2 linked regions of the Homo sapiens genome follow. The protein of the gene in region 1 purifies or fractionates together with the protein of each later gene. This does not show direct contact. Each region holds a gene or a part of one and is shown on either strand. Other genes may lie near its edges.

What was found. Proteins that work in one complex are often made in the same cells at the same time.
Region 2: the proteins of DOCK5 (region 1) and ANKRD54 purify together in Homo sapiens (affinity purification with mass spectrometry; 3 studies listed by BioGRID and IntAct, with this or other methods). This does not show direct contact.

What each region holds. Positions count from the first base shown.
Region 1 is NC_000008.11:25,365,552-25,370,032, forward strand, and holds part of DOCK5 (dedicator of cytokinesis protein 5), read left to right. Parts: intron 1-1,318; coding exon 1,319-1,419; intron 1,420-2,640; coding exon 2,641-2,699; intron 2,700-3,019; coding exon 3,020-3,174; intron 3,175-4,004; coding exon 4,005-4,090; intron 4,091-4,481. UniProt on the Homo sapiens protein: Guanine nucleotide exchange factor (GEF) for Rho and Rac. GEF proteins activate small GTPases by exchanging bound GDP for free GTP. Along with DOCK1, mediates CRK/CRKL regulation of epithelial and endothelial cell spreading and migration on type IV collagen.
Region 2 is NC_000022.11:37,840,921-37,845,922, forward strand, and holds the start of ANKRD54 (ankyrin repeat domain-containing protein 54), read right to left. Parts: upstream 3,415-5,002; 5' UTR 3,319-3,414; coding exon 2,991-3,318; intron 2,929-2,990; exon of another isoform or gene 2,697-2,928; intron 1-2,696. UniProt on the Homo sapiens protein: Plays an important role in regulating intracellular signaling events associated with erythroid terminal differentiation.

The DNA.
Region 1 (4,481 bases):
AATTTTCTGGCGTTTAAATACCCTGTAGAAGTTTTCCCATTGGTTACTTGGTTACACCCTATGTAAATGAAGGAGTAGCATGTGACCAGTCTGACCCTCCCACCAATTGTGGGAGGGGACTAATCAGAGGTACTTTCAATTTTTCATCTGCCACAGAGTGCAAAGGGGTAGCCTCTGATCCTTTTGTTACTTGGGTGTGGAGAGGTGGGGTTTTCCTTTTGATTCAGTTCTAGGAAGTCAGTGTGAATTGGCCTTCAGTGCCCTGCCTCCAGGCCCTGTTTTCCTGCCTCAGAACTTTAAAAGTTGAAAATCATAAGTAGAGGAAAGTATACACACATACACACACAGAGATGCATGCACATATAGATGAATATATATTGTATGTATGTGTATGTATATTTGCCAAAATGGAATTGAGCTGTGCAGTTCTTTGGTACTCTGTTAATCTGTTTTCCTTTTTCAATGATCTGTGATCTTTTCAATAATGTTGAATATTTTCCTGTTTTTAATGGCTGAATATCATCTGTTCTATGACTGGTCCATGATGTATTTAACCAAATTCTTCTTACGAACATTTAGATTGTTTCCATTTTCTATTATATTAAATAACACTGTGATGGACTTCCTTCCTTTAAATATTTAAAAATATTCGTGCTTGGCTGGGCACGGTGGCTCACGCCTATAGTCTCAGCACTTTGGGAGGCCAAGGCGGGCAGATCACCTGAGGTCAGGAGTTTAAGACCAGCCTGGCCAACATGGCGAAACTCCATCTCTACTAAAAATGCAAAAACTAGCTAGGCCTGGTAGTGGGTGCCTGTAATCCCAGATACTCGTCAGGATAAGGCAGGACGCTTGAACCTGGGAGGCGGAGGTTGCAGTGAGCCGAGATTGTACCACTGTACTCCAGCCTGGGCAACAGAGTGAGACTCTGGATCAAACAACAACAACAAAATTCATGGTTATTTCATCAGGATAAAGTCCTAAAAGTGTTTACTAATTCAAAAGTTTGGCAAACTTTTAGGACTTTTGAAACATAGTGCCAAAGTACATACTATAAATAGATACACTTCTTGGCAGCAGTTTTCCTTTATCCCAGGAGTAAAGAAAAATATAATAGCTTAAATTTTTTTAAAAAGCTTAACATTAAGTCTCAAAACTTTTAGGATTGAATAATCAAAACCTAAGAAGAATGTAGATTGTATTTTGTTCTTTCATTAATCTCTTGTTAATGACTTTTTACCATGTGACATTGTTTTATTATGGCCCTTATTAATGTTATTTTTCATTTCCCTTTACCCACACAATTAATTTTGAACAGCTCTGGAACAATTACTTCCATTTGGCAGTTGCATTTCTCACCCATGAGTCCCTTCAGCTTGAAACCTTCTCACAAGCCAAGCGCAACAAAATTGTTAAAAAGTAAGTGTCCTTTTAAAGTTAAGATCGGGAAGGGGCTTCTTCCATTTGTTTACATTGAGAGCAATATTTTAGGTATCACAGAAATTACTATTTAGTGGCTACCCATGTTGTTAGTGAGGTAAGTCTTCAACTAATTACTTAATAGGCCTCACATTCACCCAGGTTCAGCTCTCTTTTCTTAAGGCCCAACCATCTTCCCATCAGTCATCCCATGCTTTTTATCAAATCTGTACCTGGAGACGGACCTTGGCTGTCAGCTTGCCCATCCCCAAGAACAGCTGCGCCTCTGCTGGCAGCTTCCCCAAATTGCAGGCATAGTACCTCCTCATTCATAGCGCTTCACAAAGCACACTCCTTCAGCACAGTTGCTCCACCTCCCTGCCATTTCAGCAGAGAAAGCCAGGTCTCAGACATTGCATTAAAATGCCCTCCAGATTCCTGGTTTGGAATTCAAAATGGAATTATGTGCAGAAGTGATAAGAGATTTAGGGAAGCATTTCATTTCATTGAGAGACTGGAATCCAAAGACCATGTCGTTAAAAAATAACTTGAGGAATGTATTATTTGAAGACTTTGAAATTTTAGTTGTGTTCCCCTTGTTGGGATATCTGCGATATGTAGGAAAATTATTTAGTGTCCCTCTACTTCTGGTTCCTCCCTCAAAAACTGCCTACATATACAAAAACAGCAAAGTATTTTTTGCTCCCAAGGACCAATATTTATCCCTTTGTGGACAGTATCACTCCCATTGAGAGTGCATGGTGTAGAGCCTTCCAATGTGAATATTTTGAAAAACACGCTAGAATGGATGTATATTACCCCAATATCAGTCTATAAAGTATATAAGTATTTAGTCACCTGTTAGGCATTAGTCACAGTACTGTATGATCATACTTCATTCACCTTCCTTTTCATCAGTGTTTGCCGTGTTTTGTTTGGCTTTGTCTGTGCCTCACTCTTCTCCCTGAAGTGAGTTTGTTAATCTCATCTTCTCAGCTATTTTTCAGCGTTTCCATTTGGCTTTATTGCGGCACAAGGTCCCCCGGCCTCTGTGCGCCTCATTCCTTTTGGGGGCTCGTTTAGGTATGAACCTCATCTCTTAAGGTTGGGCCTTAAGAGTGACCAAGAGAGACACAGACTGTTTTTACTTTCCTTCTTATTGTGTTTATGCAATTCATTTCTACTGAAAATCCTCCTTCTAGTTTATGATCTTCTTCCTAGATATGGGGACATGAGAAAGGAAATCGGCTTTAGAATCCGGGACATGTGGTATAACCTGGGTGAGTGTCTAGCCTTGAACAGGCCTGATCACAACCTCTGAGTGATAAGCATCCCACGATAAAGTCTTTTTTTTATTTTAATCCAGATAACCCTGAGATGTATTTGTCTGTGTGTCTGGAAGTGAAAGTTGATTTGTGGGTTTCATTGACAATGAACTGTCTCTTACTCTGGCATCCACATGCTATCAGAATCTGAGTCACTCACTTCTGAATTGAGTTGTTTTAACCTTTTCTTTTCTTATGGAACTTGTGGAGGAAGATTTTAACACTTTACTTTCAGTGAAATAATTTTTTAATATCTTCATTCACTTTCATTTCAGGTCCCCACAAAATCAAATTCATCCCATCCATGGTGGGTCCCATTCTGGAGGTCACTCTGACCCCTGAAGTAGAGCTCCGGAAAGCCACAATCCCCATTTTCTTTGATATGATGCAGTGTGAGTTCAATTTCAGTGGAAATGGCAATTTCCATATGGTAAGAAGTGGCAGACCGCGTAATATTAGTAAATGGACATATAGTCAAATCATAACTCATTTCTTTCTATATAGAGAAGCAGTAACCTTAATAATGCAAGTCCATGTTGATCTGAAAGTTCACTTTACATTTCATTTTATAAAGCAATTAGAGATAGAGTCAGACAGTGCAACCCAGAGCCTGGAAAAGATTTTTTTGCTACATGTCTTTCCTAAGGCAACACCTGTCTGTAGAAAATTAAAGGAAGTTAACTTCATGCATTTTAATCCTAGCTGTTTCAGTATAGCCTAGAGAATAATGTAGTGAATTGAATTTAAAAACCTATCTATTATAGTACGGCTGAAAGCAGTGCAATGGATTAAGTTCTAATCCATTACTCTGTAGCTTTGAGAATGTCATTTTCCTGGTATGTCTTCTCTGTGCCTCTGTTTTCTTATCTACAAAGTGTATTAATATTGAAAGGACGATTTCGCATCTATGAACCTCTGCAAAAGCAATCTCACTGCAGAGACTTAGACATGAAACTGAAGTAAAATAGAAAAACAAGAATTATTATTCTATTTTTATATGAATAGTTGTAACAGAAAGCAATGTTTTGGATAATATGTTTTTAATCAAATGTAATGCAAAGGACAAAGTAACATGAGACTTTGTTAGAAGATTTTGATAGGGCCTTGGTGCACAGTTTATGAGTGACCCTCTGTGATCCTCCCTGTCTGTGCTGGAAACAGTTCACAACTCAGCGAATGGGTTGGCCAAGTCTAGAAAGTTGGCCATGTCTTCTTCTAAGGATGCAACATTATCCTGTGAAATTCTGCCTCTACTTTCAGTTTGAGAATGAGCTGATCACAAAGCTGGACCAGGAGGTAGAAGGGGGCAGAGGAGACGAACAATACAAGGTTCTTCTGGAAAAACTGTGAGTATTTCAGGAACGAAACCTGAAGTCAGTGGTGTCATTTAGTAATAGAGAAAAACAGGGGTCCTGTTTCACCAATAGAGCAATTGAGTAGTCTCAGAGTCACTAGGGCCACCCCCACTGTGGTCTTCAGTATGGTTATGGGGTGTATACTGTCCACAGCTGACATTGTTTATCTCGTGGGAGTCAAATGCTGGTATTTTCCTGGCCAGCCTGGCCCTAGAGAACACAGCAGATGGAGGCAAGGAGGAGGTGCAGAGTGGTGGCATTTTGCCCAGTGTTTGAATTTTTGAACTTCAACAAAAGTATTAGCACTTCTAATTATAACTGCAAAGTAACAATTTAAAGGAAAAAATATTTCAAGGTCTGCTGTGTATGTAAAAAATACCTT
Region 2 (5,002 bases), on another chromosome or scaffold:
AAACCCAGCCATCTAGCTGGGTGTGGTGGTGTGCACGTGTAACACCAGCTACTTAGGAGGCCGAGGTAGGAGAATGGGTTGAAGCCGGAAGGCGGAGGCTACAGTGAGATGAGATCACGCCACTGCATTCCAGCCTGGGCAACAAAGTGAGACTGTCTCAGGAAAAAAAAAAAAAAAAAAAGCCACAATGGCTGGGCGCAGTGGCTCATGCCTATAATCCCGGTACTTTGGGAGGCCAAGGCAGGTGGATCACTTGAGGCCAGGAGTTCAAGACCAGCCTGGCCAACATGCTGAAACCCCATCTCTACTAAAAATACAAAACTAGCCATACGTGGTGACTCACGCCTGTAATCCCAGAACGTTGGAAAGCTGAGGTGGGCAGATTGCCTGTGCTCTGGAGTTTGAAACCACCCTGGGCAACATGGTGAAACCTTGTCTATACTAAAATACAAAAAATTAGTTGGGCATGGGGGTGCACGCCTACAATCCCAGCTACTTGGGAGGCTCAGGCAGGAGAATCGCTTAAGCCCAGGAGGCAGAGGTTGCAGTGAGCCAAGACTGTGCCACTGTACTCCAGCTCGGGCAACAGAGTGAGACTCTGTCTCACACAAACACACACACACACACACACACACACAAAAAACATAGGCCGGGCACAGTGGCTCACGCCTGTAATCCCAACACTTTGAGAGGCCAAGGTGGGTGGATCACGAGGTCAGGAGTTTGAGACCAGCCTGGCCAATAAGGTGAAATCCCTTCTCTACTAAAAATACAAAAATTAGCCAGGCATGGTGGTGCATGCCTGTTATCCCAACTACTCAGGAGGCTAAGGCAGGAGAATCACTTGAACTTGAGAGCCGGAGGTTGCAGTGAGCCAAGATCGCGCCACTGCACTCCAGCCTGGGCAATAGAGCAAGACTCTGTCTCAAAATAAATAAATAAATAAATAAATAAATAAATAAATAAATAAATAAATAAAATAAAAACACAAAAATTAGCCGGGTGTGGTGGTGCATGCCTGTAATCCCAGCTACTTGGGAGGCTGAGACACGAGAATCACTTGAGCCCAAAATCACACCATGGCACTCCAGCCTGGGTGGCAGAGCAACACTCCATCTCAAAAAAAAAGAAAGAAAAAATATTTCTCAATCTTAGGTTAAGTTCTAACTTAAATCAATCTAACATGGTAAAACCCCATCTCTACTAAAAATACAAAAACTAGCTGGGTGTGGTGGTGCGGGCCTGTAGTCCCAGCTACTTGGGAGGCTGAGGCAGTGAGCCGAGATTGCACCACCTGCACTGCAGCCTGGGTGGTAAAGCGAGACTCTCGTCTCAAAAAAAGAAAAGAAAGACAGTGCCCTGGGAACAAGGAGAAACTTGAAATGAGGCGGAGCTAGTACAAAGGCCACATCCTCCTGCAAATCCTCCAAGACTTTTGGAGCCAGATTTCCTCTCTATCACTTGTAGTCACAGGGTGACCTTGAGCAAGCTAGTTAACCCAGCTGGGCCTCAGGTCTATCATCTGCAAAACAAGGCTGAGTTGTTCTGCCAGCCCCGAGTTATTGCAAATGATTTACACAGAAGCTCTTTGTGAGCTGGTTACACAGATAATCTTATATTCTCCTTCAAAGCAGGTCGTTCCCAAATGATTTGCCTAAATTTGGTATTTCCTAAGCAGATTTTCCCCCTCCAATGGCTAATGGAAAGCAATGTCTTTGTCATCGGAGATATGGTCAAAAATTGCAATTCAGATACATGACAATTCCTTGCTTTCATACAGCACTTTATGGTCAATACAACGCTTCCAAATTCTTATTTCATCTTCGTGACATCACTAAAATATGGCTAGAGTCATAGCCAGTCCTGGAAGAAATCCCCAAAGTCCCCATTCTTAATCTCTCAGTGCCTGGGTTTCCATGTCACCCATGCATTGTAGAAGACAATATGGTAGATATACCAGAGGAGAAGTTTGAGTCGGGCTGACCCGGATTCTAATACCAGCAACAGCCACTTGCTATGTGACCTGGAATAAGACAATTTCTCTGAGCCTCAGTTTCCTCTTCAGTAAAGTGGGAACAATTTCTATGTCTCAAAGAGTTCTTGTGAGGACAGATGATCATGTATCAGCAGTGTTTGGGGCACAGCAAAGGCAGCATAACAGCTAAACATCCATTACCTTACTTAACTCATCCCATTTTACAGATGAGAAAACTAGGGCTGAGGCCGGGCCAGTGGCTCATGCCTGTTATGCCAGTACTTTGGGAGGCCGAGGTGGGTGGATCACCTGAGATCAGAAGTTCGAGACCAGCCTGGCAAACATGGTGAAACCCCATCTTTACTAAAATTACAATAATTAGCCGGGCTTGGTAGTGGGCGCCTGTAACCCCAGCTACTCGGGAGGCTGAGGCAGGAGAATCGCTTGAACCCGGGGGGCGGAGGTTGCAGTGAACCAAGATGGCGCCACTGCACTCCAGCCTGGGCAACAGAGCGAGACTCCGTCTCCAAAAAGATAATAATAATAAATAAATAAAAATAAAAAAATTTAAAAAGAAAACTAAGGTTGAAAGGGTCTATCATTTGCCCTAAGGTCTAACTGTGGTAAAGGAGTCCAAGTCCGTGCATTTAAACAAGCTGGTACGACTTGGCTGCAGGCTCTGGCCTCCCCTCTCCATGATAATAAAAGTGTTCCCCAGTACCTCATTTTATTATTCACCAATAAGCGTTCCGAGTCATGGGAAGTTTCCATTCAGAAATTACCCAGTGAGAGAAGACTGGGGTGACTGGCTCAGAGCAGGAAGACTTTCTAAAAAAACCATCATCACCATCGTTACTGAAAGGAGACTCAAGGGTCAGTGTGGCCCTCAGCGCAGACGTCGGGGGACCCCGGCTGAGGGTCGGGGGCGACCAAAGCGCGGCCACTGGTCCTCTGAGGCCCCGCCCCTCGCCCGGGCTGCCCCGCCCCGGGCCCCCGCGCCGCTCGCGCCGCTCACCGTGCACCTCCTTGCCCGTGGGCCCGAGCCGCCGGTGGGGCCTGGCAGCGCGCCTCAGCCGGCCAGCGGGTATCTTGCAGCGCAGCTCGTCGCGCGGCTCCGCATCCTGCTGCCACAGGACGTGCAAGTAGCGCAGCGGCGACTGGGCCCCGCCGGACGCCCGGCCCGAGAGGCCCGCGCCGCCGCCGCCCAGCGCAGACCCGAAGTCAGCGAAGGAGAAGAGGCCCTCAGCGTCAGTCAGCGGCTCCGGCGCCACCGCGCACTCGCCCTCCGAGCTCGAGTGGCCTGAGCGCGGCTCGTCGTCCGCGTCCCCGGCGGCGGCTGCCATGGCAACGGCTCCGCGCGGGCCTGGCCGCCTGAGCCTCGTTCCCGACCGACCAACGGACCTACTTCCCTCCGCCCTGAGTCGTGCTGTCAGCGAGCTGGCGGGCGGGCAGGGCCCGCAACCACGGCAACCGAGCGGGGGCGGGCTCAGGCCGAGACAGAGCGGCGAACCAATGACTACCCTTCCAGCTTAAACCGGTCCCAAAACCAATCGGAAAGGGAGGGCACAGTACAAGCAGGATAATTGGACAGGGTTTCCGGCAACGTGACTGACAGACATTGTAACCAATTACAAACTTGAAGTGACCTTGGCTTTCGCTGTACGTCGCTACCGGAGCCAGTAAAACAGCATTTCAGACGCTTTTTTTTTGCGACGGAGTCTCGCTCTGCCGCCAGGCTCGCGATCTCGGCTCACTGCAACCTCCGCCTCCTTGAAGCAATTCTCCTGCCTCAGCCTCCCGAGTAGCTGGGACTACAGGCGCGCGCCACCACGCCCAGCTAATTTTTGTATTTTTAGTAGAGACGGGGTTTCACCATGTTGGCCAGGATGGTCTCGATCTCTTGATCTCGAGATGTGCCGGCCTCGGCCTCCCAAAGTGCTGGGATTACAGGCGTGAGCCACCGCGCCCGGCCTTTTTTTTTCTTTTTCCTCTCCATTTCCCAGTCTAATGAGAAAACAAGCAGATACCTTAGCAAATCAGATTAAGATGATTTGCAGGCACTCACAAAGGAAAATGAAGAAGCCACGCCATCCATGTAGATATAGATGTTGTAAATCAATGAACGCAAAAAAAAAAAAAAAAAAGAACTTCCCACAAATGCATAATGTACGTGGGAAAGGGAAAATGTGTTGAAATTTGGAGATACCACTACAAACTGTGAGTAATAGTGTCTAAATGCAATGGATTTCCTTTAGTCAGAGTTCTCTAGGTAACCCCGACGTAGATGACTGATCTACAAAGATTTGTAATACAAAGTGATTACATTAGAGCAATAGTTTAGTTCGACAGCCAGTCACTGAGCCAGGTAACTGCTAGGTCCTGGACACAGGATCAGACTTGGTGCCCCTGAGATGCTCACAATCCAATGGGAGAAGACCAGGAAACAAATAAGTGTTCCTCAAGCAACATTTCATGGGTGCACGTTTTCATAAAACTTCTCACAATCCCGTACCCCACAAGCACTTCTATAAAGTAGACAAGAAGGACCATCCCTATTTTATAGGTGAGGAGTTGAAAAGCAGAGGGAAGAGACTCATTCACAGTTGCCCAGCTCTCACCGGACCAGGTCTTGTGTCCTGGCAAAAGTTCTTTCCATATATAAACCCTCCCACTCAACCCAGTTAAAATGTAATCTTTCCGCACGGTGGGTCACGCCTGTAATCCCAGCACTTTGGGAGGCCAAAATGGGCAGATGACAAGGTCGGGAGTTCAAGACAAGCCTGGCCAACATGATGAAACCTCGTTTCTACTAAAAATACAAAAATTAGCTGGGTGTGGTGGCGCACGCCTGTAATCCCAGCTATTCAGGACACTGAGGCAGGAGAGTAGCTTGAACCTGGGAGGCAGAGGTTGCGGTGAGCTGAGATCGCACCATGGCACTCCAGCCTGGGTGACAGAGCGAGACTCCATCTCAGAAAGAAACAAAAACAAAAAAAAGGCCTGGCGCTGTGGCTCACGCCTGTAATC